Homo sapiens: one gene and its partners. The main gene of each other region encodes a partner of the protein of the gene in region 2 in a complex. Each region holds a gene or a part of one and is shown on either strand. Other genes may lie near its edges. The genes, in order: GTF2F2, GTF2E2, POLR2D and GTF2H5.

Region 1 (7,027 bases), on a different chromosome or scaffold from region 2:
ATTACAGGCGTGAGCCACCGCACCTGGCTTACAGACAACATTTTTAAGAGTTTTTGTTTACTACAGATTATGTAGTCAGGATACCTTGAAACTATGCTTCCAGGTGGCTATCCTCAAGCTTTGGGCTCGAATAAACTATATAGTTAATTTTATTTTCTGAATCTCATTACTTAAGATTGACATATGCCTGTCAAGGACAATAACTACCATGGTTTCCAGTGCTTTGATGAAACCAAACGCCATGCATCTGAGGTTTTATGTTGTTGGAGCATTCATTGCATCCCTGGGGGTTGCAGCTCTCTGTAAGTTTGCTGTGCTGAAGCAAGAAATAAGGCATATGCAGATTTCTTCAGAAATTAGGATTCCATGAAAGATATTGAGGAGATGAGGAAGGCTGGTATCTTTCAGAGTGCAAAGTGGTTTGGGAATATAAAGAATTTGCTTGGATTGAATCACATGGAAGTTTGTCACTGACTTGTGTTCGTGAACTATGAAACACGAATATCTAGGCTGAGAAAGAGTTCGTCTTGATAAGTAAACAATTAACAAATATTTCGGACAGGAAGAAAAAAAACAGTTTTTGTTCACTAGGCAAATGTAGAGGTAGGCTGCAGTGCCCCCAGGAACTAAACCAGTGATATACATGTTAACACAGAAAGATAAGCATATATTTTTAGTCTGTTTTTCTAATTTTAAAGAGAAAGCACCAACATTAACTTCAATTTGAGATTGAAGCATGTAAACCAAGATTTTTTTTTTATTTTTTATTTTTTATTTTTATTTTTTTATTTTTTTATTTTTTTGAGACAGAGTCACTCTGTTGCTGAGAGTGGAGTGTAGTGGCACGATCTTGGCTCACTGCAACCTCTGTCTCCTGGCTTCAAGCGATTCTGCTGCCTCAGCCTCCCTAGTAGCTGGAGATACAGGCGTGTGCCACCACGCCCAGCTAATTTTTTTGTATTTTTAGCAGAGACTTGGCCGTGCTGGTCTTGAACTCCTGACCTCAAATGATCCGCCCACTTTGTCCTCCCAAAGTTGCTGGGATTACAGGCGTGAGCCACTGCGCCTGGCCCCATGATTTTTGAAAAATCTGGGTAGAATTCGGTAATTTTCTTACTACTCATTAATGTTACTAATTACAACTTAATCCGACCCTTACTCTTATCCCTAGTGTTGATTTTAAAGTTCTTTTCTAATTTATTAATTTTTACCTTTGATTCAGGTCCTCTTGCATCTGACATGTGACTCTGGGTTGGGACAACTTGATAACAACACTTAAGTTTTCTCTCCACAGCCAACTAGAATGTGCGCCCTCTGTAAAGTAGGTTATCTTACTTTACCAGTGGGCTTATTTGAAAACATTTTTCATGTTAAACTTCCTAGCTTCTCCAATCATTTTACACAAGAAACAGCCTACTGAAGGTGGAAACTGAGTATACCATCACTTCTCTGCTATTTCCTGAATTTAACTTGAGACTGAGGCCAGGCGTGGTGGCTCACGCCTGTAATCCTAGCACTTTGGGAGGCCGAGGCGGGCGGATCACGAGGTTAGGAGTTCGAGACCAGCCTGGCCAACATAGTGAAACCCTGTCTCTACTAAAAATACAAAAATTAGCTGGGCATGGTGGTGCGCACCTGTAATCCCAGCTACTCGGGAGGCTGAGGCAGGAAAATCACTTGAACCCAGGAGGTGGAGGTTGTGGTGAGCCGAGATTGCACCACTGCACTCCAGCCTGGGCAATAGAGTGAGACACCATTTCAAAAAAAAAAAAAAATTGAGACTGGCTGGATTTCAGTCTTCCCTAACAATACAATCTGTGTCATTCATTTGCATTTTTTTTAAGCATGGTGATCTTGTCCTAGGTAGCTCTTTGTCCATTACTGCATTTAAAATGCTCAAGGCCCTCCCCTCTCTAATCATTTTAATCCATTTAAAGCCGTTTTAGAAAGAAAAAGCTGTCTTACTCTCCCCATATCTTAGCGCAATGCCTAGCATATAGTCATGCTTAATCTGCTGAAGCTCAGTGGAGTTTGAGTTTTACTCCCAGTTCGTACATATCAAAAAATGAAGATGATTGAGTCCTTTCCCTTTGTCTCACTCCCAACTTTATTTAATTGAAAAGTAGATACTCAAGGTTTTCAGTTACCTTTTACCACTAATTTGACAGTCTCTCATAAGACATATTTTTAGTTTTAATATCAATAAATCAATAGAAACTAAATTTTATCCTTTTATAACAAATCTTTATTGTTAAAATAGAGTAAGCTAACTACCTGAGGCTATTTGTGGAATAATTTATTTGTAAGTTTTTAAATGTATCCCATTGTTTTCGAAGCTAGTCCCCAGATTATAATTATTCCAGCTGACCCACAGGACATTCTTCTCTGGCAGTTTCCACCCAACCTACTGATGCTTTCTTCACCAGGTTGGCCCCTTCAACAAGTTTCTGATGGTTTATACAAGTGAAGTGTTCCTAAAAAGAAACAAACAAATATCTCAATTAACTAAGTAATAGAACAGAACTTGCATATTTTAAGTAAAAAGGGTGATGTTTTACAATTGAACAGTCCCAGGATGGTAACAGTAGGAGGGAACTTCTTCATTGTGTTAGTGCCACTGCTTTTTAAGCTGGCATGCATGGAGGTACACAAAACTGCAGAATAAACATAACACATGGTCCTGAAGTGTCATTTTTATTTGGATAGTAGATACTGTATTTTTTACTTCATGTTAAAAAATAAAGATGTATTATACAGGTGAATTTAGAGGTCACATGAAGTTTTAAATGGGAATTTCAGAAAAATGGTTTGCTTGTGTCTGAGATGATAAGTATATAATTACCCCTTTCTCTTGTTAAACTAACTTTTATTGTATGGGAAGAGAAACAGGTTCAAGGAGGTTGCACAGGGTCAGGATGAGAAAAGGTCCATGTCCTTTCCTTTTTACCAATGCTTCCCAAACTTTTCACTCCGTAAAGAACCCGTTTTATAATCTGCCTGCCTCCAAGAACCCCACATTTGAAAGATGTTACCTATGAAACTGCATCTGTTAGATAAACTGTTTTACTGTTAATCAAAAACAAAAGCACTACACGTTAGAGTTTTCGATCAACACAAGATAACCAGTTAACCGCACTGAATTGATACAGTTTTGGCAAAAGGCCTTTTTGGGGGGAAATGTACACATTATGCATTACATAAAGCTTTAGGGGATAATGAAAGTGACTGGAATTATTACTAACTTAGAGCCTTAAAGATACGGGGACCCCAGGAGTAACAGGTCCCAGGTTCTGAACTACTGTTCAGAGGCCTGCTGCCTCGAAACTTACGATCTAGTCGTTAATGGATGACTCAAAAGAGAATGCCTGGGCAAGCACGGTGGCTCACACCTGTTATCCCGACACTTTGGGAGGCTGAGGCAGGTGGATCACCTGAGGTCAGGAGTTCCAGGCCAGCCTGGCCAACATGGTGAAACCCCGTCTCTACCAAAAATACAAAAAATTAGCCAGGCGTAGTGGCGGGCACCTGTAATCCCAGCTACTCGGGAGGCTGAGGCAGGAGAATCACTTGAACCCAGGAGGTGGGGGTTGCAGTGAGCTGAGATCATGCCACTGCACTCCAGCCTGGGCAACAAGAGCAAAACTCTGTCTCAAAAAAAAAAAAAAGAGAATGCCTGTGTTTTAGAGTGAGCATGTTGAATTGATGCTTTTATTTCCTTTGCTGTTTGCATATAGATCGAATATGAAAGGAAAAAGAAAGAAGACGGAAAGCGAGCTCGAGCTGATAAACAACATGTTTTAGACATGCTATTTTCAGCCTTTGAGAAACATCAATACTATAATCTTAAGGACTTGGTGGACATCACAAAGCAACCTGTGGTATGTATATGTTCATACTGATCCTTTGAATATGCCCTCCTTCATTAACACGACATTACTGAAAGTGTGTCATACATGATTTAGTTCACATTTACCTATGCTAATGACTAATTTTATGACAACACTCAGAAAAGATGTCTTAATGCAGCCATTTTTGGTAACATCAGCTTTTATTTTACATTTTAGTACTCTTAATAATTATTTATGAAGAAAAGAAATTATCCTCATGTTCATTTATTCTTGACATTAAGCCTGAAATCTGTTGATACCATTTCTGGTCTTTATTTTGTTTCCCTATCTTCCTCTGAGAAAGTTTAACTCCTTCCCTTTTTTTGGAAAACATGCCTCATAGAAAAATCGCATTCTTTAAAGAATTATACTGTTTTGTCATTGTGGGAGGGTTTATCCCTGTCTTGTGAATTGTTTTCTGTGGATTTTTTTTTTTTTTTTTTTTAATTAGAATCTGTGTAGGTCCTTTTAAACCTGAACTGAACTGCACTTTCAAATTATGCTTGCAGAGATTGTGATTAGGTTGGCCTGTTCCCCATTTTTAAGGACAAATTTAACAAATTCGTATTTTAGAAAGTTTATGTTTGTTTTATAGTCATTTTTATCTCTTCTCTAGGCTTTTGTGCATTTACTAGTAATTTGCATTAATAATCCATTTAAAATGATGATAACAATAAGAAATTCAAATTCTTTTTCTAGTCTTTGAGTCACATTGTTTTCCATTTAACTTTCTCCACCACATGTCACCAAAGTATCAGACTGAGTATTTACTTATAGGTTTAAGAAAATTGAATGGAAACCCTTTTATCTCATTTCCTTTACCATTTTGTCTACTCTGCCGGTATACTCAAGAATCTGTTGATTCTTGCTGCTCCATTTATTGGATTCAGAATATGTAACAATAACCAATTTTAAAAAACATCTTAACATAACCAAATAACCTATTTGTGAAAGGACTTGATTTTTTTTATTTATACAAAGCTTTAGGAAATGATTTATGAAATTTTAATGTTCATTATACAGTTTCTCCTGCAGATATTTCTTTACTATTATACATCAACCCTTGCCTTTTGTTAAGAAATTAATTTGAATTCCAAAAGATTTACTTTTTAATAAGAAGAAAGTGCTCATGGTGGAGTATTATCAATTCATCCCAATGACTTCACTCCCTTTGGCATCAAAGCCTTAGAAACAGCATTCTAAGCTAGATTAAAAATTTTTTTTGAAATAGAATAAATAACTCATTAGCTAAGCTGTGTTTCTTCTGGTTTTAATGAAATTTATCTTTGTATTTATATATATAAATATATCTGTATGAAAAGACCCTTCCAGAAACTCTGAAAACAGACGAGATTCTCATGGAATTAAACACAAAAAATTAGATATGGAAAATAATCACTTGTAGAGGGGCATTCAGATGATACTAGGGAAAGCAGTTTCTTTGCCTTCACATGGGATATAAGGTTTATTCATTTTGCATCAAAGAACAAGTATTACTAGTGTGTCTTTTGGTTTTGGTTCTTAAGATATTTTTTATATGGTAGTACTCAGTGAATCTCTTACAACAGAGCTTCTTAATTCCTAACCAGTGGATGGACTTAAGGGGATCCATTAACTTCCTGAAAATCTGCAAAAATGTATGAATTGTTCTGGGGAACATATCATCCATAGTTTGTATCAGATTCTCATAGAAGCCGCTGATCTCAAAACTAACTTTTTAAATAATAGTTTTATTATTTAGAGACTAAATTGCCTCAATAAGCATAAGATTCCTGAAGGCAGAGTTGTATGCTATTCCTATCCCTAAATATTCATATACCCCATAGTGTAAAAGATGGTAAAAATTCAGCAAATATCTCATGAATTGATTTGAAAAAAGAAAATCCTCAGTCTCCAAGGGCCACCATATTTTCTTCAGATGGATTTTGGCAGGCCTCTCACGTCATTTATAGTGAGGTTGGGGCAAAGAGCCAGTGCCAAGAAAGTGTGGAATGCCTTCCCCAGGCTGGGGGTAGGCCAGAGGTAGTTACCTCCTCCTAGAGGAGAGGGCAGGAAGTGGTCAGCATGGATTCCAGTCCATTGACTGGGAAAGAAAGTTGCCAAAGTCTAGCTCTCCCCCAAGTAGGCAACTATCCCCCTTTAAAAGGATTCGAGGACATAAGTGAATCTGTACTAATGGTCATCAGTACCCAAGAGACTTGAGGAATCTATTCTAGCATGAAGATCAATGGTCCAGGAAAGGGGGTGTTCTGGTATAATGGAAAGAACCTGGATTTGGAGTATGAGATCCTAGTTCAAGTCCCAGCTCTACCATTTAGCCAAATAGTCCTGGACAAGGTACTTAAATACATTTAATACATTACTTATATTTAGTTCACTTAACATATGTAATAATATAAAATTTACCAATATGTTCAAATTATAATTTATTTTGGGGGTGGGGTGTTTTGTTTGTTTGTTTTTGAGATGGAGTTTTGCTCTTGTTGCCCAGGCTGGAGTGCAATGGCACAATCTCTGCTCACTGCAACCTCCACCTCCCGAGTTCAAGCGATTCTCCTGCCTCAGCCTCCTGAGTAGCTGGGATTATAGGCGCCCACCACCACACCTGGCTAATTTTTGGATTTTTAGTAGAGATGAGGTTTCACCATGTTGACAAGGCTGGTCTTGAACTCCTGACCTCAGGTGATCTACATGCCTCAGCCTCCCGAAGTGCTGAGATTACACGTGAGCTACCGTTCCTGGCCAAAACCTTCATTTCTATAAGTAAAATTATTGGCTAGAGAAACTTTGCTTAGGGCCCGTCTTTTTCTCTTGTTTGCCAGTATGTGACTTACATAAGCAACTAGAAAGAGTGAAAGTTACTCATCAAGGAGGCCAAGCTTTGGTAACTGATATAAAGTCGGGGACATAGTATCCATTTAAAGATATATTATCTTAGTCTGTTTTTTGTTACTTATAACAGAATACCTGAAGCTGGGCAATTTTTAAAGCAAAATAATTTGTTTCTTAAAATTTTGGAGGCTGAGAAGTCCAGGATCAAAGGGCCACGTCTGGTAAGAGGCTTTTTACATCGCTTAGTGAGGAGGCTGAGCGTGCTAGCTCAGGTCTCTCTTCCTCTCCCTCTTTTTATAAAGCCACCA
Region 2 (7,027 bases):
ATGTAAGATACTCAATTGGGATTTTCACAAAAATACAATTTCCTAAAACAAGTTCAGGGAAACTAAAGCCCTATCTACCAGAACCACAAGCCTGGATATCTATAGACAGATAACAAAAGGAAAACTTAAGGTTACTGCACAAATCACAAAATCAATTAAATTGATGTCCAATTATTTTCCTGCCATTTTATAAAACTTCAAAAGTAATACAAATTTACAGTAAAATACCACCAACACTTGCTAAAATGGCAATTGGTAAACTTGAATAATACATTTTTCATCACTAAACCCTTGTTTAATGACAAATTATTGACAAAAATTTAAAACTAAAGTCCAAACATACGTATCATATACTTAGTAAGAGATTCAATATACAGCTTAGCATCCAACTCCACAATTTCCAGAAAGAAAAACATCATCTCCTTCCTTATTCAATTTGATAACTGAAAGATTCATAAGATAAGAGAACACTATTCACCAATAAAAGTTTATTCTTTTTCCCATCCTGTATCAAGCTTTTGTATCAGGATATGAACTTACATTTGTAAAAGTCTAAAGATAAAGAAATAAACCCGTTTGGTTCAGTTGAGCTATAAACATTAAGAAATCCTGAACTGCGATTGTAAGTATAATTAACCTAAAATCTTTCAAATCACATATTTCAAATTGCATTCTAAGCAACAATATGTTAGACACAGGGGCCACTGGCTGTGTTCTAAGAAATGATAATGCTAAAAAAGCAATATAAGATTTAAATTATAATTGTATTATAAATATTAATTTTACCACCCTAAAATTGTAATATACTTGCAAACTAAAGTATAATACAGAAAAGCTCACCTTCATCCACAGAAAACTGACAGCTCTTATCATTGAAGAAAAGTATTTTCTTCTTATCGGGACGATTTACAAATAGTATCTGGTCCCCCAAAGCCTTAAAGATAGATAAAATAAAGATTTTTCAGTTAACTCCAAATTACCTCACCAAAAAAAAAAAAAATTTAAACAATAAAGGAGTTTCATTTCCTTAACACACTCAGTATACCACCATAGGGTCCTCCACCATAGGTCCACTGGACCCAATTTTAGTTTTAGTTTTGTTTTTAAGAGACTCCACCCAGACTGGAGTGCAGCTCACTGCAGCCTCAACCTCCCAGGCTCAAGCAATCCTCCCACCTCAGCCTCTGGAGTAACTGGGACCACTGGTGCATTGCCACCACGTCTAGCTAATGTTTTCAATTTTTTGTAGACAAAGGGTCTCACTATGTTGCCAGGGCTGGTCTTGAACTCCTGGGCTCAAGCGATCTTCCCACCTCAGCATCAGAAAGTACAGGGACTATAGGTGTGAGCCACTGCACTCAGCCCCAATTTTAGTTTTTGAGTTTCTTTCTTGAGTAGTTCAATTTTTTAAAAATTGATATTTCCAGACTTGTATTCTTAGAGGTCTTCCAAAGAACAAAAATAAAACGTGTTTCACTTAAAACGGAAAATTCAATCTTTGCTGCAATTACTATTTGGGTCCATGGGGCTCTTTCACTAATCTAAGACACATAATAGAATCTTGGTGTTCTTACTTTTCCTCTACCTTGAGATATTTCGCTCCTTACTCATCATTACCCATCAATTATTTCCAATTGTGCTTTTAAAACGCTAAAATAATAAGAAAATAGAAGAATGATTAAATCACCTAGAAATGTGATGCAATAGTGAAATACATGGGCATCCTTCAGTTTTCTTACTGCATTGCCCAAAGGATTACATTACTCCTTTTCAAGAGATATAAAAGATTGGAAGAGTCTTCTTGTTGTCTTTTAACTTTCATTGAGTACACCTGACAAAAAAAATTTTGTATTTTCTACCCTTGAGAGCAAAGACAAGAAAACTGACCAAAGACATTTCACAATTATTAGATGAATCAAAATATGAATGCAAAAAGCCAAATAGCAGCACTCTAGACTATCTGGCAAAAATTCATCATAGGAATAAAGTCTCAAGCTATGGAGTCTTTAGATGACAATAACTCAAGTGAAGATTCTCAAGCTTAAGAATCAACAAGCGAACAAAATGCTTCTCAATACAAAATGGAAACAATATTCTCATCCCGTTATTCACCAGAAGATTATCACACAGTATTTTGTGAAAAGAATCTTTATCATCTCACTTTGCTAAAAGGATATATGACAGTATTCTTCTTTTTGATGTGTTTTCCAAAAATTACTTGATACAGAAGTTTGCTGTGTTAAATTCTTACTAAAATCTCTAATAAAGCTGTTTTCATCATCCCATTATTCTTACTTATGTAAATTATTCATAAAATGACTTAAAGTAGCTTAAAAATAATAGTCCACTAGATCAAGGTGGTAAAAGGTGATAACTACAGGATGAGCAACCCAAATCCCAAAATCTCGAATCCAAAATCCAAAACTTTTTAAGTGCTGACATGACATGCCAAAGAAATACTTACTGGGGGCCAGGTGTGATGGCTCACACCTATAATCCCAGCACTTTGGGAGGCAGGAGGATCATTTGGGGTCAGGAGTTTGTTTGTTTTGAGACGGAGTCTCACTCTGTCAACCAGGCTGGAGTGCAGTGACGCGATCTTGGCTCACTGCAAGCTCCGCACGGTGGCTCACGCCATTCTCCTGCCTCAGCCTCCCGAGTAGCTGGGACTACAGGTGCCCGCCACCACGCCCGGCTAATTTTTTGTACTTTTTAGTAGAGACAGCGTTTCACCATGTTAGCCAGGACGGTCTCAATCTCCTGACCTCGTGATCCACCCGCCTCGGCCTCCCAAAGTGCTGGGATTACAGGCGTGAGCCACTGCACTCGGCCGAGGTCAGGAGTTTTGAGACCAGCCTGGTCAACATGGTGAAACCCCATCTCTACTAAAAATAGAAAAATTAGCTGAACACGGTGGCAGGTGTCTGTAATCCCAGCTACTTGGGAGGCTGAGACAGGAGAATCTCTTAAACCAAGGAGACAGAGGTTGCAGTGAGCTGAGATCACCCCACTGCACACCAGCCAGGGCAACAGAAAGAGACTCCGCCTCAAAAAAAAAAAAAAAGAGAAAGAAAGAAAGAAAGAAATACTCACTGGAGCATTTTGGATTTCAGATTTTCAACTCTGGAATGTTTAAACTGGTATAATGAAAATATCCCAAAATTTGAAAAAAATCCCAAAATCTGAAACAGTTCTGGTCCCAAGCATTACAGATAAGGGACAGTCAAATTGTACATACATAAAATAAATGAAAGAACCTGAAGGCATTGCTAAAAAAAATTAAAGACATGAATAAATGAATTCTGTGCTCATGTATTAAAAAACTTAATACAGTTACGATGGCAATACTACCCAAAGTTACCTATTCAAGGTAATCCCTATCAAAATCCCAATGGCATTTTTTGCAGAAATGGAAAAATCCATCCAAAAATTTATATCAAATCTCAAGGGACCTCAAAAAGCCTGAAATGGTTTAGATCTGTGTCCCCATCAAATCTCATGTCAAACTGTAATCCCCAATGTTGGAGGTGGGGCCTGGTGGGCGGTGACTGGTATGAAGGTGGATTTCCCTCTTGGTGCTGTTCTCCTGATAATGAGTTCTCATGAGATCTGGTCATTTAAAAGTGTGTGGCACCTTCCCCACTCTCTCTTGCTCCTGCTCCGGCCATGTAAGATGAGCCTGTTTCCCCTTCACCTTCTGCCATGATTATAAGTTTCCTGAGACCTCCCCATAAGCTGAGTAGACACCAGCATCATGCTTCCTGGAGAGCCTGCAGAACTGTGAGCCAAATCAATCTCTTTTCTTTATAAATTATCCAGTCTCAAGCATTCCTTTATAGCATTGCAAGAATAGACTAATACATAGCCAAAACAATCTTGAAAAAGAACAAAATTGGTGATCTCACTCTTACTGATTTCAAAATATATTACAGAGCTACATTAATCAGGCCAGGTGCAGTGGCTCACACCTGGAATGCCACCACTTTGGGAAGCCGAGGGTGGGCAGATCACTTGAGGTCAGGAGTTCGAGACCAGACTGGCCAACATGGTAAAACCACATCTCTACCAAAAATAAAAAAATTAGTTGGGTGTGGTGGTGTGTGCCTATAATCCCAGCTAATCAGGAGGCTGAGGCAGGACTACTGCTTGAACCTGGGAGGCAGAGGTTGCAGTGACCCAAGATTGCATCACTGCACTCCAGCATGGGTGACAGTGTGACTCTGTCTCAAAAAAAAAAAAAAAAAAAGGCTACATTAATCAAAACATTGTAGTGCTGGCATGAAGAAAGACATACAGGCAGAATAGAGGGCCCAGAAATAAACCTTCACATATATGGTCAAATGATCTTCCACATGAGTACCAAGACTAAGACTATTCAATGGGCAAAGGACGGTCTCTTCATCAAGACACTGAGAAAACTGGATATCCACATGAAAAGGAATAAAGTTGGACTCTTACACCATATACAAAAATTAACTCTAAATACCTAAGACCCAAAACTATAAAACTCCTAGAAGAAAACATAGGACAAAAGCTTCATGACATTAGATTTGGCAGTGATTTAAACATGATACTAAAGGCACAGGCAACAAAATCAAAAATAGACAAGAGTGCAGCAAACTCAGAAACTGGCAAATTAAAGAGCACAATCAACAGAGTAAAATGGCAACCTACAGAATGGGAGAAAATATTTGCAAATCATGTATCTGTTAAGGAATTAATATCCAGAATATATTTTTTAAAACTCCCACAATTCAACAACAAAAACACAATGGAATATTATTCAGCTTTAAAAAGGAAGAAAATCCTGTTGCAAGTACAACATGGATGAACCTTGAGAATATTATGCTAAGTGAAATAAGCCAGTCTTGGAAAAAGATTCCAAGATTCCAAGCAAACGGGCTAAGGCTAGAAGAACAGAAGAGACATATCATATGCTACCTGCTGTAGGGCAGACAAGGTTTGGAGTAACTGCCCACTTAACCACAAAACAAAACAAATAGAAACACTCTTGGGAGGAATGTAACAGAATCCTGAGTCTTTACACATATTAATATAATCCACAAGGTCTAAGACCCAACAGAAATGTATTAGATATATGAAGAAACAGGAAAATATGACCCATAAAAGAGACAGTCAATGCAGACCAGCTCTGAGATGACTCGGCTGTTAGAATAAGAAGAATTTTAAAGCAGCTATAAGAAATCATACTTAAGGGTGTAACAAAAGATACTTGTCACGAATGGAAAAAAAAGAAAACAAAATTCAGCAAAGAAACAGAAACCAGAAGAAAAATTTACAAAGAAAGACTAGAACTGAAAAATACAATTAAAAAATTCACCAACTGGGCTTAACAAGTTGGAAGTGAAGAAGAAAAGTGAGTGAACTTGACAATGGATTAATAGAACAGAAAAAAAATTGAAATAAATAAACAGAGCCTCAGGGACTTGTAGTACAATACCAGAAGATCTGACATGTATAATTCCATTACCAAGAAGAAGAGACAAAGGGGCAAGTTTTCTTCTACAGGCAGCAAAATGAATGAACCTGCTTAACAAGTTAACATTAATAATGAGCAACTGTGACAAATGGAAACAAGCAGCTTTCCCCAGTGAGTTTCAAATTTAAACTGGAAATGTCATCTGTATCAGTAGGACTTTCATAGATAGCCCCTTTAGGACTTCAAAACAGCCAGGTTATTAACCAATGCTTTCATGTTTTAATGCCTCTAGTTCCTCAGGTAAGGAACATCTACTAGTATTATAGAAGACACTCTTATTTACAAACAGAGCTTACAAGAGAAACTCTATTGCCTTTGAGGAAAATTTTCCAGAAATAGCCTGAACAATCAAACAATCATATAGTAACAGCAACAAGAACCCGTCAAAGTTACACAGAGATGGCTGCTCCCTTTCCTGCTAGGTGGCACAAGACAAATTTCAAACCTTCAAGTGGCTCACTGTAACCCATGTGTATATAATAGAAGCTTTAAAAACAATTGTAAAATGTTTGATATTTTTAAAACCAAGAAGTCATTATTCATTCAAATTATATTAAGACATAGAAAGAAAAGAGAGATTACCTTGACAGCTTTCTGGGAATTGGGCAGTGCTTCTTCTATGTCTTCTAAAAGAATTCCTCCTAATCCTCGCTGGTCATGCTGATCTAAGAGCCTAAGTAGGGCCTTCTTATCTCTCACGTTGTACTTGGGCTTGAAAGCATACTTCCCATCTATTACTTCAATTTTGGGATTGTTGACTAAAGCCTGTAACAGTGATACAATTGGAATATATTAACAAATGGAACATAAATATATATATATATTTTTGAAACGTAATCTTGCTCTGTCGCCCAGGCTGGAGTGCAGTGGCGTGATCTCAGCTCACTGCAACCTCCGCCTCCTGGGTTCAAGCGATTCTCCTGCCTCAGCCTCCCTCTCCTGCCTCCCTCCCTCTCAGCACCTGGGACTGCAGGTGCGCACCACCACACCCAGCGAATTTTTGTATTTTTAGTAGAGACGGGGTTTCACCACATTGGCCAGGCTGGTCTTGAACTTCTGACCTCAGGTGATCCACCCACCTCAGCCTCCCAAAGTACTGGGATTATAGGCGTGAGCCACTGTGCCCAGCCCATATACACATTCTTAATTCTACTAATTATTTTAAAATACAACACTAGCCAATACAGTGGCAAATTAAAAGTACCTTATGAATACAAACTGGCAGGCCTAAAATCCTGGACATCCAGAATTCCAGAACAGTAGATCAGCACGGTGCTCACTTTTTATAAAAGAAACTGTGTTTTATTTACATAAATTCTTTGAAGAGAAATAAACCATTTTATCACAACTACTTTGAAAAAAGCTGAACCCATATTCTTCTAGTAGTCAAAATGTGTAGGAATCAATAAAACACCTACAAATATTAATAGACAAAGTGAACTGAGTAGTGCCCACTCCATCTGCAAAGTACAGCTTATCACATACTGGCATTATAAAGTAAGGAACATAACCCTTACTAGTCAATGG
Region 3 (7,027 bases), on a different chromosome or scaffold from region 2:
AGCTCCTCATCTTCAAACCGTCCCTCCAAGCTACAAGAAAATGAAAAGAAATGAGTGATTTGGCGACTGGCAATTTCCCCGCACTCTTCTTTGAGGCGTGCTAATCTACTGCCCACATCTCTAACACCTTTACCTTTCATCTGGATTTCTTTTCCACTTTTCCTGATAAAACATTACAAAATATTTCAAACATATAAAAGATAAAAGGTATAAAAAATATACCTTTACAGTTAGCCCCACTTGACTTAGAGGTTTTTTTTTTTCTTTTTTTTGAGATGGAGTTTCGCTCTTGCCTCTTAGGCTAGAGTGAAGTGGCATGATCTCGGCTCACCAAAACCTCCACCTCCAGGGTTCAAGTGATTCTCCTGTCTCAGCCTACCAAACGGAGTCTTGCTCTGTCGCCCAGGCTGGAGTGCAGTGGCGCAATCTCGGCTCACTGCAAGCTCCGCCTTCCGGATTCCCACCATTCTCCTGCCTCAGCCTCCCAAGTAGCTGGGACTGCAGGTGCCCGCCACCACGCCCAGCTAATTTTTTGTATTTTTAGTAGAGACAGGGTTTCACTGTGTTATCCAGGACGGTCTCGATCTCCTGACCTCGTGATCCGCCCGCCTCAGCCTCCCAAAGTGCTGGGATTACAGGCGTAAGCCACCACACCCAGCCCTCACCCAGCTAATTTTTATATTTTTAGTAGAGACGGGGTTTCACCACTGGCGAGGCTGGTCTCGAACTCCTGACCTCAGGTGATCCTCCTGTCTCAACCTCCCAAAGTGCTGGGATTACAGGCATGAGCCACCACGCCCGGCCCTGCATTTTTTCATTTACTGTCTTCATGTTTTCTAATGGTATCAACCTCCCAAAGTGCTGGGATGACAGGTGTGAGCCACCACACCTGGCCAGAGTTTTTTTTTGGGACAGAGTGTCGCTCTATTGCCAAACTGGAGTGCAGTGGCGCAATCTCGGCTCACTGCAACCATCACCTCTCGGGTTCCAGTGATTCCCCTACTTCAGCCTCCCGAGTAGCCGGGACTACAGTCGCACACCACCACACCCAGCTAATTTTGTATTTTAGTAGAGATGGAGTTCCACCATGTTGGCCAGGATGGTCTCAACCTCCTGACCTTGTGATCCACCTGCCTCGGCCTCCCAAAGTGCTGGGATTACAGGCTTAAACCACTGCGCCCAGCCCAGAGTTCTTTAATAAGCAGGAAAAGTGGATGGCTGTGTATACTCTCCTAGACCAGTACCTTCCCTCCTTCCCCAGAAATAACCACCATCCTCAATTTAGTATTTATCATTGCCATACATTTAAAAAAAATTTGTTTTGCCATACATATTTTTATACTCACTACACATTTATGGATACGTAAATAATATGCAGCATAGTTTCAAACTTTATAAGAAATGGCATCATACTGTATTTATCCTTCTGCAATTTTTTTCCTCAAAATTCATTCTGGCATATGTTGATATTCCATGTGGTTCTAGTTCATTGATTTTTTTTTTACTGCTGTATAATAAACATTGTATGATTATACAATGATTCATTTATCCATTTTCTTACTGGCCAAGAGATTATCAAATTTCTGCTATCATTAGCAGTGGAGCATGAGGCTGGGCACCGCGGCTCATGCCTGTAATCCCAGCACTTGTGAGGCTGAGGCAGGCAGATCACTTGAGGCCAGAAGTTTGAGACCAGCCTGGCCAACACGGTGAAACCCCATGTCTACTAAAAACAAAACAATGCAGCAATGAACACTAAAATATACGTCTCCTTCTAAATTTGTGTGAGTTACCTTTAGGATATGTACCAGGAATGGATTTTTGGAACTTGGAGTATATTCATCTTTACCAGACATAGCCAAATCACTCTCCAAAATGATTGTTCTAATTAACACTCACAATCCTACCATCAGCGTACAGAAGTTCCAGCTGTTTCATATTTTTGCTATCACTTGGTGTGGTATAAAACCATCATTCTCACACACTGTTAAAAGGGCACTTTTGGCTGGGCACGGTGGCTCACGCCTGTAATCCCAGCACTCTGGGAGGCCGAGGCGGGTGGATCAACTGAGGCTGGGAGTTCGCGACTAGCCTGACCAACATGGAGATACCCCATCTCTACTAAAAACACAAAATTAGCCAAGTGTGGTGGTGCGTGCCTGTAATCCCAGCTACTCGGGAGGCTGAGGCAGGAGAATCGCTTGAACCCAGGAGACAGAGGTTGTGGTGAGCCGAGATCACACCACTGCACTCCAGCCTGGGCAACAAGAGCGAAACTCCGTCTCAAAAAAAAAAAAAAAAAAAAAAAAGGCACTTTCATTCAATATTGGCAATTATGTACCCAAATATATAACGCATACACATTTTAGACACACCAATTCTATTTGTAGGAATTTATCCAGTATACAGAGAACTTATCACAACTGGTACTAACCTTGGGATTAGAGCCTTGGACTCCTCAGCAGTCTCTGGGCAAAGGTTGGCCAAACAGGCCAACTCAAACTTATGAAGCTTTTTCTGGAGTAGCAAGCTAATCAAAAGGAAAAAAAAAAAATCAAAATAATCAAAAACAAATAAACAACAAAAATCAAAGAGTAATCAACAGGAAAAAAGGGATCAAACGTAGCTAGTATTTAAAAATAGCTAGACGGCCAGGTGTAGTGGCTCACACCTGTAATTCCAGCACTCTGAGAGGCCAAGGTGGGTAATCACTTGACGTGAGGAGTTCGAGACCAGCCTGAGCACCATGGCGAAACCCCGTCTCTACTAAAAATACAAAAATTGCCAAGGCGCAGTGGCTCACGCCTGTAATCCCAGCACTTTGGGAGGCCGAGGCGGGTGGATCAACGGAGGTCAGGAGTTCAAGACCAGCCTGGCCAACGTGGTGAAACCCCGTCTCTACTAAAAACACAAAAATTAGCTGGGTGCAGTGGCGGGCTACTCCCAGCTACTCGGGAGGCTGAGGCAGGAGAATTGCTTGAACCCGGGAGGCGGAGGCTGCAGTGAGCCAAGATCACGCCACTGCACTCCAGCCTGGGTGACAGAACTAGACTCCGTCTCAAAACAGACAAACAAACAAACAAACAAAACCAAAAAAACAAAAAACTAAAAAAATTAGCCGGGTGTGGTGGTGTGTGTCTGTAGTCCCAGCTATTTGGAAGGCTGAGGCATGAGAACTGCTTTAACCTGGGAGGTGGAGGTTGCAGTGAGCCAAGACCGCACCACTACACTCCAATCTGGGTGATGAAGTGAGACTGTCTCAAAACAAAACGAAACAAAACAAAAAAAAGGTAGAAGAGGCCAGGCTTAGCAGCTCATGCCTGTAATCCTAGCACTTTGGGAGGCCAAGGCAGGAGGATCACTTGAGTCCAGGAGTTCAAGACGTCTTCAGCCTGGGCAACACAGTGAGACCTTGTCTCTAAAATCAATGAATAAATACATAAAATAAAAATAGCTAAGGGAGACTTGACATGTTCCTAATACATAGAAATGATCAATACCCTCAATACCCTAACATACTCATTACACATTCTAAGTAACAAAATATCATATGTACCTCATACATAGGTACAAATACTATTATCTATCTATCTATCTATCTATAGGCTGGACATGGTGGCTTACCTCTAATTCGAGGACTTTGTTTTTTTTGAGATGGAGTCTCACTCTATGTCACCCGGGCTGCAGTGCAGTGGCACGATCTTGGCTGACTGCTACCTCCCTCTCCCGGGTTCAAGCAATTCTCCTTTCTCAGGCTCCCAAGTAGCTGGGACTACAGGCATGCGCTACCACGCCCAGCTAATTTTTGTATTTTTAGTAGACGAGATTTCACCATTTTGGTCAGGCTGGTCTTGAACTCCTGACCGCAAGAGATGTGCCCATCTTGGTCTCCCAAAGTGCTGGAATTACAGGCATGAGCCACTGCACCCGGCCAATCCCAGCACTTTGGGGGGCTAAGGTTGGAGGATCAATTGAGGCCAGGAGTTTGAGACCAGCCTGGACAACATAGTAAGTCTCCCCATCTCTAAAAAAAATAACAAAAAAAGTTACTTCCCCACTAACAGTACCATTTAGATCACACATACTGGACTTACACAAAATATGACAGATTCATATTTGAATCTGTTCCCAGACTGGAGTACAGTGGCACAATCACAGCTCACTAAAGCCTCAACCTCCCAGGCTCACATGATCCTCCCACTTCAGCCTCCCAAGTAACTAGGACCACAGGTACCTGCCACCACACCTGGCTAATTTCTGTATTTTTTTTGTAGGGACACGAGTTTCACCATGTTGCACATGCTGGTCTTGAACTCCTGGCCTCAAGAGACTGGTCCACCTCAGCTCCACAAAGTGTGGATTACAGGTGTAAGCCACCACACCTGGCTGAAATTCTGGTCTTCTAAGTTGCCCAGGTTGGAGTGCAGTTGCGCAATCTCGGCTCACTGCAACCTTGGCCTACAGATTCAAGCGATTCTCCCGCCTCGGCCTCCTGAGCAGCTAGGATTAATGGTGTGTACCACCAGCTAATTTTTTGCATTTTTAGCAGAGACGGGTTTTTGCTATATCGACCAGGCTGGTCTTGAACACCTGGCCTCAAGTGATCTGCTGCCTCAACCTTCCAAAGTGCTGGGTGTGAGCCACCATGCCCAGCCTAACATTATTTTACTTAAATTCACAAGTGACACCTGGGAAAGGGGGAGGGGACAGCATTCTACATGCAGTTGTCCAATGGTTTGGATTAATAAAAACTTTCTTTTAGCACTCACCTACGAACACTGGCAATGGTCTCTCTGTTTTTGAAACGACTGAAACGGGCTGTGTAGTTTAATGTTTTCATGAAGACTTCTGAGAGCTCCTGTTCGTCCTCTGCACTCTCATTCTGCTGCTTTCGATGTTCCAGAAGCATATGAACTTCTGAATTTAGAAGTGTCTCAGCTGTTTCAAACTCTATTTGTAAGAAGCATAAATGGCAGCTGAAAATACTCCTTCAAAAGTTTGCTTCTAAATGTTCACTGTGCATTTGAACATTTCTCTGCCCCTGCAGAAATCGAGGGGTTTCCTACTCCACATCTGCTTTTTTTTGAACTTTTATTTTAGGTTCAGAGTGCATGTGCAGGTCTGTACTACAGGGAAAATGGGTGTTGTGAAGGTTTGGCGAACAGACTATTTTGTCATCCAAGTGATAAGCATAGTACTGATACATAGTTTTTCAATCTGCACCACCCACCCCCTCAACTAGGCCTCAGTGTCTGTTGTTCCCTTCTGTCCATATGTACTCAAGGTTTAACTCCCACTTATAAGAATGTGAGGTGCTTGGTCTTTTGTTCCTGTGTTAATTGCTTAAGTGAATGGCCTCCAGCTCCATCCATGTTGCTGCAAAAGATATGATTTCGTTCTTTTATTTTTTTTTTTGAGACAGAGTCTCAATCTGTCACCCAGGCTGGAGTGTAGTGGCATGAATACAATTCACTGCAGCCTTGACCTCCCTGAGCTCAGGTGATGCCCCATCCCCATCTCGGCCTCCCAGGTAGCTGGACTGCAGGCACACGCCACCACACCCTGTGTGTTGTTGGTAGAGATGGGGGTTTCACCACACTGCCCAGGCTGGGATCTCCTTCCTTTTTATGCCTGCAGCTACTCCACATCTTTAAGTTCACCCACAGTTACATACCACAAGGCACAGTTACATACCACAAGGCACAGTGGAGTTCACGAGACACTAACATTTAGCTTGTCTGAGCTAGATTCTGACACCAAAAACCTGACCTAGACATGCTACTAAGTAATGACACATAGACTAGTTACTGATTTCAAGAGTACACTGACAATTCCTTCCCTCTAGCCGGCATCAGCTCATCATCTTCCTACTTCCATAATGCTAGTATTATACTCTCAATTTTAAGAATTGTTACATGTTAAATAGGGCCAAGTGTCTGGAAATAAATATAATGTACCCCAAAATCTATTTTTGTGCACACACAAATGTTATAAGCAATTTTTAAGAATTAGGTTTGAGAGAAAAAGAAACCCATGGCCCCTTTTCATAATATACGGCGACCTTCTACATTTCTACAATAGTTCTGTTAAAAAATGCTGTTACCCTTGGGAAAATCATTCTCTCCCTTACGTTCCTGCAGGATCTTATGTTCCTAATGTTTATCTCAAAGTATTAGAGATAGTTTTTATCTGCCTTTCTCTTAACAGTGAGTTCCCTTAGAGTAGGAACCATTCATAAACATGAATTCATGTTTATAACCCCACACTGAAGAGGAAGCAACAGTGAGGAAAAGCCAAAACGACTTGCAATTTCACATTTAGATGTGCTATGGGTCTGTTTACTATCAGGGAAATCACTAACACCTCCCTCAGAGTAATGCCTTCCCATTTCTCAAGCCAGGTAACTGACAAGAGCTTCATTTTCCTTTTACAACACAGATAGTTTTAAGTGGTGGGTCAGGAGGAAACTGTATTTTTATTTGAAAGGTACTCATTGCTACTAAATAGAATAGGCTGCCAATACAGTTGGAGCACTATTGAAATAAAATTAAAATATAAATTAAAAAATAGGTAACCAAAAACTGTTTTCTACCTGAGGGCAGGAGAGTTTAAACGAAAACCTCAGAACACCTTCTTTTTCAGTCTTCTAGCCTATAACAGGGGATTTACTACAGTGAGAGCCTATTTGTATACCAGGAAAGTTACCTCTTTTAATCCTTAACACTGAGGCAGTGTAGGTACAGAAGAAACTACTGCCTCACAGCAATGAGTAGAGGAAAAGGCATTATGTATCAGGACTGCAGAACCTCCAAACTCTGAAGTGACAGTAACAAATGACATCAGGCCAAAAAAAAAAAAAAAAAAAAGGGAAGCAGCAGCTAATCAGTTACAAATCTGTTTGTTGGAACTTTGATGCTTTTACAGGTCCTGGAAAAATCAATGTTAAGAGATGCCTCCCAGGCTAAGCGCAGTGGCTCACGCCTGTAATCCCAACACTTTGGGAGGCCAAGGCAGGTGAATCACCTGA
Region 4 (7,027 bases), on a different chromosome or scaffold from region 2:
TAAAGCTTTTTTTTTTTTTAAATTCTATGGTAACAAAATCAGTTCAGGGGCTTTTTTTCTGAACAAATGATCATGATCCCTCAGTCTTTCCCGTGGCATGCTCCTAAAACAACCCTCTATGTCTAATCAGTCACCTAAGATATTGAGTGGCAAGTCTTTCACAGTTGCTGCTTATAATTCCTAAATGGTCCATATTGAGTATTTTCATTTCTGGGTAAGGGAAAAAGCATTTTGGTCCATTAATTCACCCACTCGCTCCTGGAGGACATTAACCAATTCTGCTATTACAAAGACGTGAGTGTCATCAATGTCTTGAATGATGAACTTCTTCCCCAGGGCATTGGACTCATCCAAGTACAGCAGAAACTGCTTCATGGCAGGATCACTGTAAAGACAAACACATGATTGTAAGACAGCTTGTTGTCAAATCACATCACAGAGACTTGAGCAATTAAATGTGAACATGTAGAATTTTTAGAATGATTTTTAAAGTTCTGTTACTCAATCCCTCACTTCCTCTCTGCCTCAAGTGTTAACAATTTATAGACATGGCTTCATTTTAGAACTATTAGTGTAAGTTGGCCGGGTGCGATGGCTCACACCTGTGATCCCAGCACTTTGGGAGGCCGAGGTGGGTGGATCACCAGGTCAGGAGATCGAGACCATCCTGGCTAACACGGTGAAACCCCGTCTCTACTAAAAATACAAAAAATTAGCCGGGTGTGGTGGCGGGTGCCTGTAGTCCCAGCTACTTGGGAGGCTGAGGCAGGAGAATGGTGTGAACCTGGGAGGCAGAGCTTGCAGTGAGCGGAGATCGTGCCACTGCACTCCAGCCTGGGCGACAGAGCGAGACTCTGTCTCAAAAAAAAAAAAAAGAACTATTAGTGTAAGTTGAAGAGGCAGAGGCCAATGGCAAGATTTTTAAAGAATAATTTGTCACTAAGTGGAAAAAATAAAAGAATATTGAAAGCTTTGTAGTTAGTAGGGCCTAGAATCACAGCTTTCTTAACTGATTTAAACACTGAATTTCTTCCTTGTCTATGCCCATTACATCTAAGGAACCAGTAGGTGTTCAATGTTTTACCAGTGACAAATTAACTTACAAAACCAGTTAAACAGTCACTTTGGTCAGGCAGGGTGTATATCAAGAGTCATACCTGGATTCAACCCCAGCTTCATCACTTACTTGTGTGACCTTGAATAGAATAGGTACTTAATCTCCCAGAGCCTCTGTTCCCAACCTCAAAAGTGAGGCTACATAACAGAATTGTTTACGGAAATTAAAGGAGATAATGTCAAGGACAGTGCTTGGCTTGTAATAGGCATTCAAGGAAAGAGGTCCAAATTCAATTTTATTAACTTGTGGTTTTTGGTTTGGAAAGAATAGGATAGTCATAAGGGAAAAGAGGGATACAATTTCTTCTCGGGCAGTACAGATTTACAGCAAAATGTCTCTTTCATAAAAACCTTGAATCATGACAAAGGACACTCTTTAGATCTAATACACAATGTGTTTAGCAAAAAATGAATATAAAAATGTCAAGCTGCACCACAGATTTTTGCAATTCTTGAGAAAAAAATCTCATATAATCTTTTGGTGTCTTGAGAAATGTCAATATCAATTGTAAAGGTAACAATTTAATCCAAAAGATGTCACTATAATTTACTGAAAACAAGAAAAATAAGATTTAAGTACAAGCACAGGTATTAACTGATGCTAACACGGGATTTACTTCTATCCCTAGATGAGTATGAGCCTCAGAACTGATTTGGGGGACTTTGGGTTTTACCAAGTGACATGATTTAACTTACAAACTGACTTAAATTTTAACTGTAAGGATCATATTGGCTGCTGGGTTGAGAAAAGACTGGGAGTGGCAGAGGCAAGGATGGAAGCAGGGGACCCATGAGGTGACATCCAGGCAAGAGATGATGATTTTGATGTAGGTGGTAATAGTGGAGGTGATGAGAAGTGGTTGAATTCTAGATATATACTGACATAAAACCAACATAATTTGCTAATACTGGACATGAGCTTTGAGAAAGAGGAACAAGAAAACTCCAAGATTTTTCATCTGAGCAAATGGAAGACTGGAGGAGATTTTTACTGAGATAAAGAGGAATGTGTAAGATCTGCAGGTAAGATCAAGTTTGGTTTTAGGGTGGGCATGGTGGCTCATGCTGTAATCCCAGCACTTCGAGAGGCCTAGGCTGGAGGACTGCTTGAGGTCAGGAGTTAGAGACTAGCCTGGACAGCACAGTGAGACCCTGACTCTACTAAAAAAAAAAAAGGTTTAGTTTTTGATGTTATATTTTGAGATGCCTACTGGCCCCTGAGTGAAGAAGCTGAGTAAGAAGTGACCACCGAGGTAGAAAGAAAACCCAAAGAGTCCTGAAAGCGATGTGAACAAAGGCTACTCAGGAAGTGGGAGTGATCAATTCTGTCAAAGGCTTATAGGGTATAGCAAGGGCTGAAAATTGATCCCTGGATTCAGAAAGTCACTGGACCTTGGCAATAGCAGTTTTGGTGGAGTCATAATAGGGAAAGCATGACTGGAGTGGGTTTCATATGGGAGGAAAGAAATTAGAGACAGTGAAGAGAACCAAGTCTTCTCTTTACTGAGAAATTTTGCTACAACGACCAGAAAGGTAGACTGGAAGCTAGGAAGAGGTGTGGGACTCTGAACAGATGGGAATATCAACAGACCATAGGTCTGGCGAAGTTGAAGAAATGATGGAGTGAGGTATGAGAGGGAGTGAACTGGAAAGAGGAGGTGGTGGTCAGAGTCAGATGCCTGAAATGAGACTGAAGAGCTGGCACGAGGGTAAGGAAGGATAGGTCTAGCTACAACTATGTGAATGAGTGGCTGTGATGAGGTGGAGGACAAGCTCAGTGGAAGAGGAGGCCAGGGAACTGGGAGAACAGGGTATCTAAAGGACTACCCACACGGATACTAACATCACTAAGGATTTGAGAGAAGAGCTACTGAAGATAGTTTTTTCAAGGGAAAACCTTCAGGACAGATTGGGGTGTCTGTAGATGATTATAAAGAGGAGGGTTGGTGGGTAGTCCACTCTGATGATCTGGGATTGATAACTGGGGGTTTCTATGGAAGAGGGAGGGAGAATTTCTGGAAGTGGCAATAATAAGCAAGGTACTGATCCTGTTTCCTGACCCAATGGTACAAGAGGGTGCCTTTGTAGAGGAAAAAAGGCACCACCTGATAAGGTGGTGGGAGAAGCAGTGAGCTCAGGACAAAGTCAGGTTTTGTCACAGCAAAAAAGGAAAAGGTGGGTGGGGGAAGGAAAAAGGAAAGTTCAGAGAAGAGGCTGAGGCTACAGGGCATCCTGCTGCTGCCATCTCACTATGTCCCAGAGGGCAAAGTGGAAAGGATTGCGGTGGGTAGGTGGGGGAGGGTGGTGGGTAGGAGATGGTGAACAGGGCCATAGATCATGAAAATGCAAGAGACAGAGATAGCTTGGGAGTCTGTGGTTTATTGGGTGACTGAAAAAAAGGAAAAATCGGCATATAAGGCTTAATGAGAATGAGGATCTCCGGGATGACACTGACATGCAACTGAATGGCAACAACAGCTGGTGACAGGAGGATGAATGGGGTATTTTACAAACAGAGCATAATGGTCACTGATTTAAGCAGATACAAAAAAATGTTAAACTTCACATTTTCAGCAATTCTCTAATTTGAGTATTATACAGAATAAGAATTTAAATGAAAAGATTTTCTAGAACAGTAAGACACTGTACACTGAGAAATTTCAGAGGTAAACAATTGATTAATTATTGACAAAGAGCACAGGTGGAAACATAAAATAGAAAAAAGCTTGAAGAGCAATTCTAGAAGGAACGTGGGGTTGATGAAGCAGGTTAAACAGGGTGCTTCCCGATGATATTGCAGAAAGGAAAATGAGGCCTATAGGACAGAGAAACCAAAGTTTCAGTTTCTTGAAAACCATTGTTTTTCTACTCAGACTCTTTAAAAATTTAGTTGTTTCCCTCAAATCTTCCTTGCACATACAAATAAAGGTAGAAGGGGAGGGACTGGTGGGGAGAATAAAAGGAGAGTAATTCAACAGTAGACAGGTATGATGGCTGGGGAGGGGAGAGTCAGACAAAAACCTGGACTTCAGTGCTCTACAATTAAGCTTTCCTTGCAAACAAGGGAGGACTCATATGACCGTGGTGCCCACTTCACTCTCCAGGCCCCACAAGTACTTCAATATATTCTATAAAAATCATAGAGGTTTCTTAGTATACACTTTACACAATGGGATTGTAAACCAAAAATAAAGTTCTAAGCACCCCACCCCCCATCTGCCAACTGACTGATGGACCCTCCCCTTGGCTAAGGGCATTCCAAAGTTAACCTGAAAAACTAGTTCAGGCCATGATGGGAATGGGGGTTGGGCATGCCTCATACCCACCTCCCTTTGAATTCAGGCATAGCTGACCAGTATTAACATTAAAACAGAGATCTTGGCCGGGTGCGGTGGCTCACGCCTGTAATCCCAGCACTTTGGGAGGCCGAGGCAGGCGGATCACGAGGTCAGGAAATCAAGACCATCCTGGATAACACGGTGAAACCCCATCTCTACTAAAAATACAAAAATTAGCCAGATGTGGTGGCAGGCACCTGTAGTCCCAGCTACTCGGGAGGCTGAGGCAGGAGAATGGCATGAACCTGGGAGGCGGAGCTTGCAGTGAGCCAAGATCGCGCCACTGAACTCCAGCCTGTGCAACAGAGCGAGACTCCATTTCAAACAAACAAACAAAAAAACAGAGATCTTAAGACCCAGGTAACAGACTTTTTGTAGGAATAAAACACCAAATTCCAGCTTGACTTTTGTAAAGCATCACATGGCAGATGGCAGGCCCTGAAAGAAATTGTATTTTACACCAAAATATGTTTCTTTGACATATTTTGAGACGGCCCTGCAAAGCTGTCTCTTGTGGGAATAATCGACTCTGTAGAGACTCTCCATTCCTTTCCAGGTCTTTTCCCTGATCCAGGGGAGTCTGGCACCTTTTTAGGTCTGATAAGAGCTCTGGGCCAGGTGCGGTGGCTCACATCTGTAATCCCAGCACTTTGGGAGGCTGAGGTGGGTGGATCACCTGAGGTCAGGAGTTCGAGACCAGCCTGGCCAACATGATGAAACCCCGTCTCTACAAAAAAATACAAAAATTAGCCGGGCGTGGTGGCAGGCGCTTGTAATACTACCTACTCAGGAGGCTGAGGAAGGAGAATCGCTTGAACCCAGGAGGTGAGGGGTGTAGTGGGCCGAGATCACACCATTGCACTCCAGCCTGGGAGACAAGAGGGAGACTTCGTCTAATAAGAACAAAACAAAACAAAACACAAAACAAAACACAAAACAAAACAAAAACAACTCTGAAGCCTGCTACCTGGAGACTTCATCTGCGTGATAAAACCTTGGTCTCCACAGCTCTTTACCTTAACCCACACATTCCTTTCTATTGATTCCAGGTCTTTAGATAATAACTCTTTCAATCAACTGCCAATAAGAAAATCTTTGAATCTACCTATGACCGGGAAGCCCGCCCCCCATTCCCCTTGCTTTGAGTTGTCCTGCCTTTCCAGACTGAACCAATGTACATCTTACATGTATTGATTGATATTTTGTCTCCCTAAAATGTGTAAAACCAAGCTGTAGCCCGAACACCTTGGGCACAAGTTGTCTGGACCTTCTGAGGATATGTCATGGGCATGTCCTTAACCTTGGCAAAATAAACTTCAAAATTGATTGAGACTTGTCTCAGATACTTTTTGATTTACAGGACCAACAGTTGTTTTGTGTTAGCCCTTTAAAATAAACTTTGGATCCAAATGTAACAGTAATAAAAGACAAACTGGACATTGAAACATTGCTGTCTGCATGTGATAGATTAACTTGTTACAGTTTGAGCTCAGTACATTCAGATGACACCAATTTATTCTCAGTAACTGGCTACTACTAACAGGTATTAAAGGCAGCAAGAGTTAAGTGGTTATGAAGACTTTGGGAATTTTCTAAATGGAATAAATTTACATCATCTTAATGAAGTCAGAGCTAAACCACTAAAACCAAGAAGCGCCTCAGGACTCATATCTGTGCTGAATCATCACACCAATGCTTTCAAAATGTTTGCCATTTGTATACCATCCTTGCTATTTTAGCCATCTCTTGTAACATCTCTGTTGCAAATCACTTAATATTTTTCTTTAAATTGCCTTTAAATCAACTAACGTTTCATCTGGCATAAAACCAAGAGTTTGATATGTCAGTTTCCTCTTCTCCTCAAATAAATTAAACTGGTCATATAAAAAATTTTTTTGCTCTCTTTATTTTTTTTGAGACAGAGTCTCACCGTCACCCAGGCTGGAGGGCAGTAGGCGTCATCACGGCTCACTGCAGCCTTGACCTCCTGGGCTCAGATGATTCTCCCACCTCAGCCTTCCCAGTAGCTGGGACTACAGGCACATGTCACTGCACCCAGATTTTTTTTGTATTTTTTTGTAGAGATAGGGTTCTGTTATGTCGAACTCCTGGACTCAAGCAACCCACCCGCCTCGGCCTCCAAAAGTGTTGGGATTACAGTTGTGAGCCATTGAGCCTGGCCTATTTTTCTATTCTACTCCCCCAAAATGTATGTTCTTCAAATCATCTTGAACACTAATGGTATTCCGCACACTTGGGGAAATATGCTAACTGACAAATGAGACAGCTTAGAGGAATGACTGGCCAGTGAACACTGAAATAACGCTTTAATATCAATCGCTTCAAACTTTTTTTTTTTTTTTTTTTGAGACAGGGCCTCACTCTGTTGCCTAGGCTGGAGTGCAGTGGCACAATCCCAATTCACTGCAGCCTCAACCTCCTAGGGATGAGGTAATCCTCCCACCTCAGCCTCCTGACTAACTGGGTCTACAGGCGCACGCCACCATGCCTGGCTAATTTTTGTATTTTTTGTAGAAATGGGGTTTCACCACATTGCTCAGGCTGGTCTTGAA

The links.
Region 1: GTF2E2 (region 2) and GTF2F2 share a complex: the UniProt entries of both Homo sapiens proteins name them as parts of the TBP-based Pol II pre-initiation complex.
Region 3: GTF2E2 (region 2) and POLR2D share a complex: the UniProt entries of both Homo sapiens proteins name them as parts of the TBP-based Pol II pre-initiation complex.
Region 4: GTF2E2 (region 2) and GTF2H5 share a complex: the UniProt entries of both Homo sapiens proteins name them as parts of the TBP-based Pol II pre-initiation complex.

The regions. Positions count from the first base shown.
Region 1 is NC_000013.11:45,263,499-45,270,525, forward strand, and holds part of GTF2F2 (general transcription factor IIF subunit 2), read left to right. Parts: intron 1-3,734; coding exon 3,735-3,878; intron 3,879-7,027. UniProt on the Homo sapiens protein: TFIIF is a general transcription initiation factor that binds to RNA polymerase II and helps to recruit it to the initiation complex in collaboration with TFIIB.
Region 2 is NC_000008.11:30,606,217-30,613,243, forward strand, and holds part of GTF2E2 (transcription initiation factor IIE subunit beta), read right to left. Parts: intron 6,266-7,027; coding exon 6,083-6,265; intron 935-6,082; coding exon 841-934; intron 1-840. UniProt on the Homo sapiens protein: Recruits TFIIH to the initiation complex and stimulates the RNA polymerase II C-terminal domain kinase and DNA-dependent ATPase activities of TFIIH. Both TFIIH and TFIIE are required for promoter clearance by RNA polymerase.
Region 3 is NC_000002.12:127,848,156-127,855,182, forward strand, and holds part of POLR2D (DNA-directed RNA polymerase II subunit RPB4), read right to left. Parts: intron 4,951-7,027; coding exon 4,770-4,950; intron 2,531-4,769; coding exon 2,435-2,530; intron 31-2,434; coding exon 1-30. UniProt on the Homo sapiens protein: Core component of RNA polymerase II (Pol II), a DNA-dependent RNA polymerase which synthesizes mRNA precursors and many functional non-coding RNAs using the four ribonucleoside triphosphates as substrates.
Region 4 is NC_000006.12:158,185,335-158,192,361, reverse strand, and holds part of GTF2H5 (general transcription factor IIH subunit 5), read right to left. Parts: intron 386-7,027; coding exon 205-385; 3' UTR 1-204. UniProt on the Homo sapiens protein: Component of the general transcription and DNA repair factor IIH (TFIIH) core complex, which is involved in general and transcription-coupled nucleotide excision repair (NER) of damaged DNA and, when complexed to CAK, in RNA transcription by RNA polymerase II.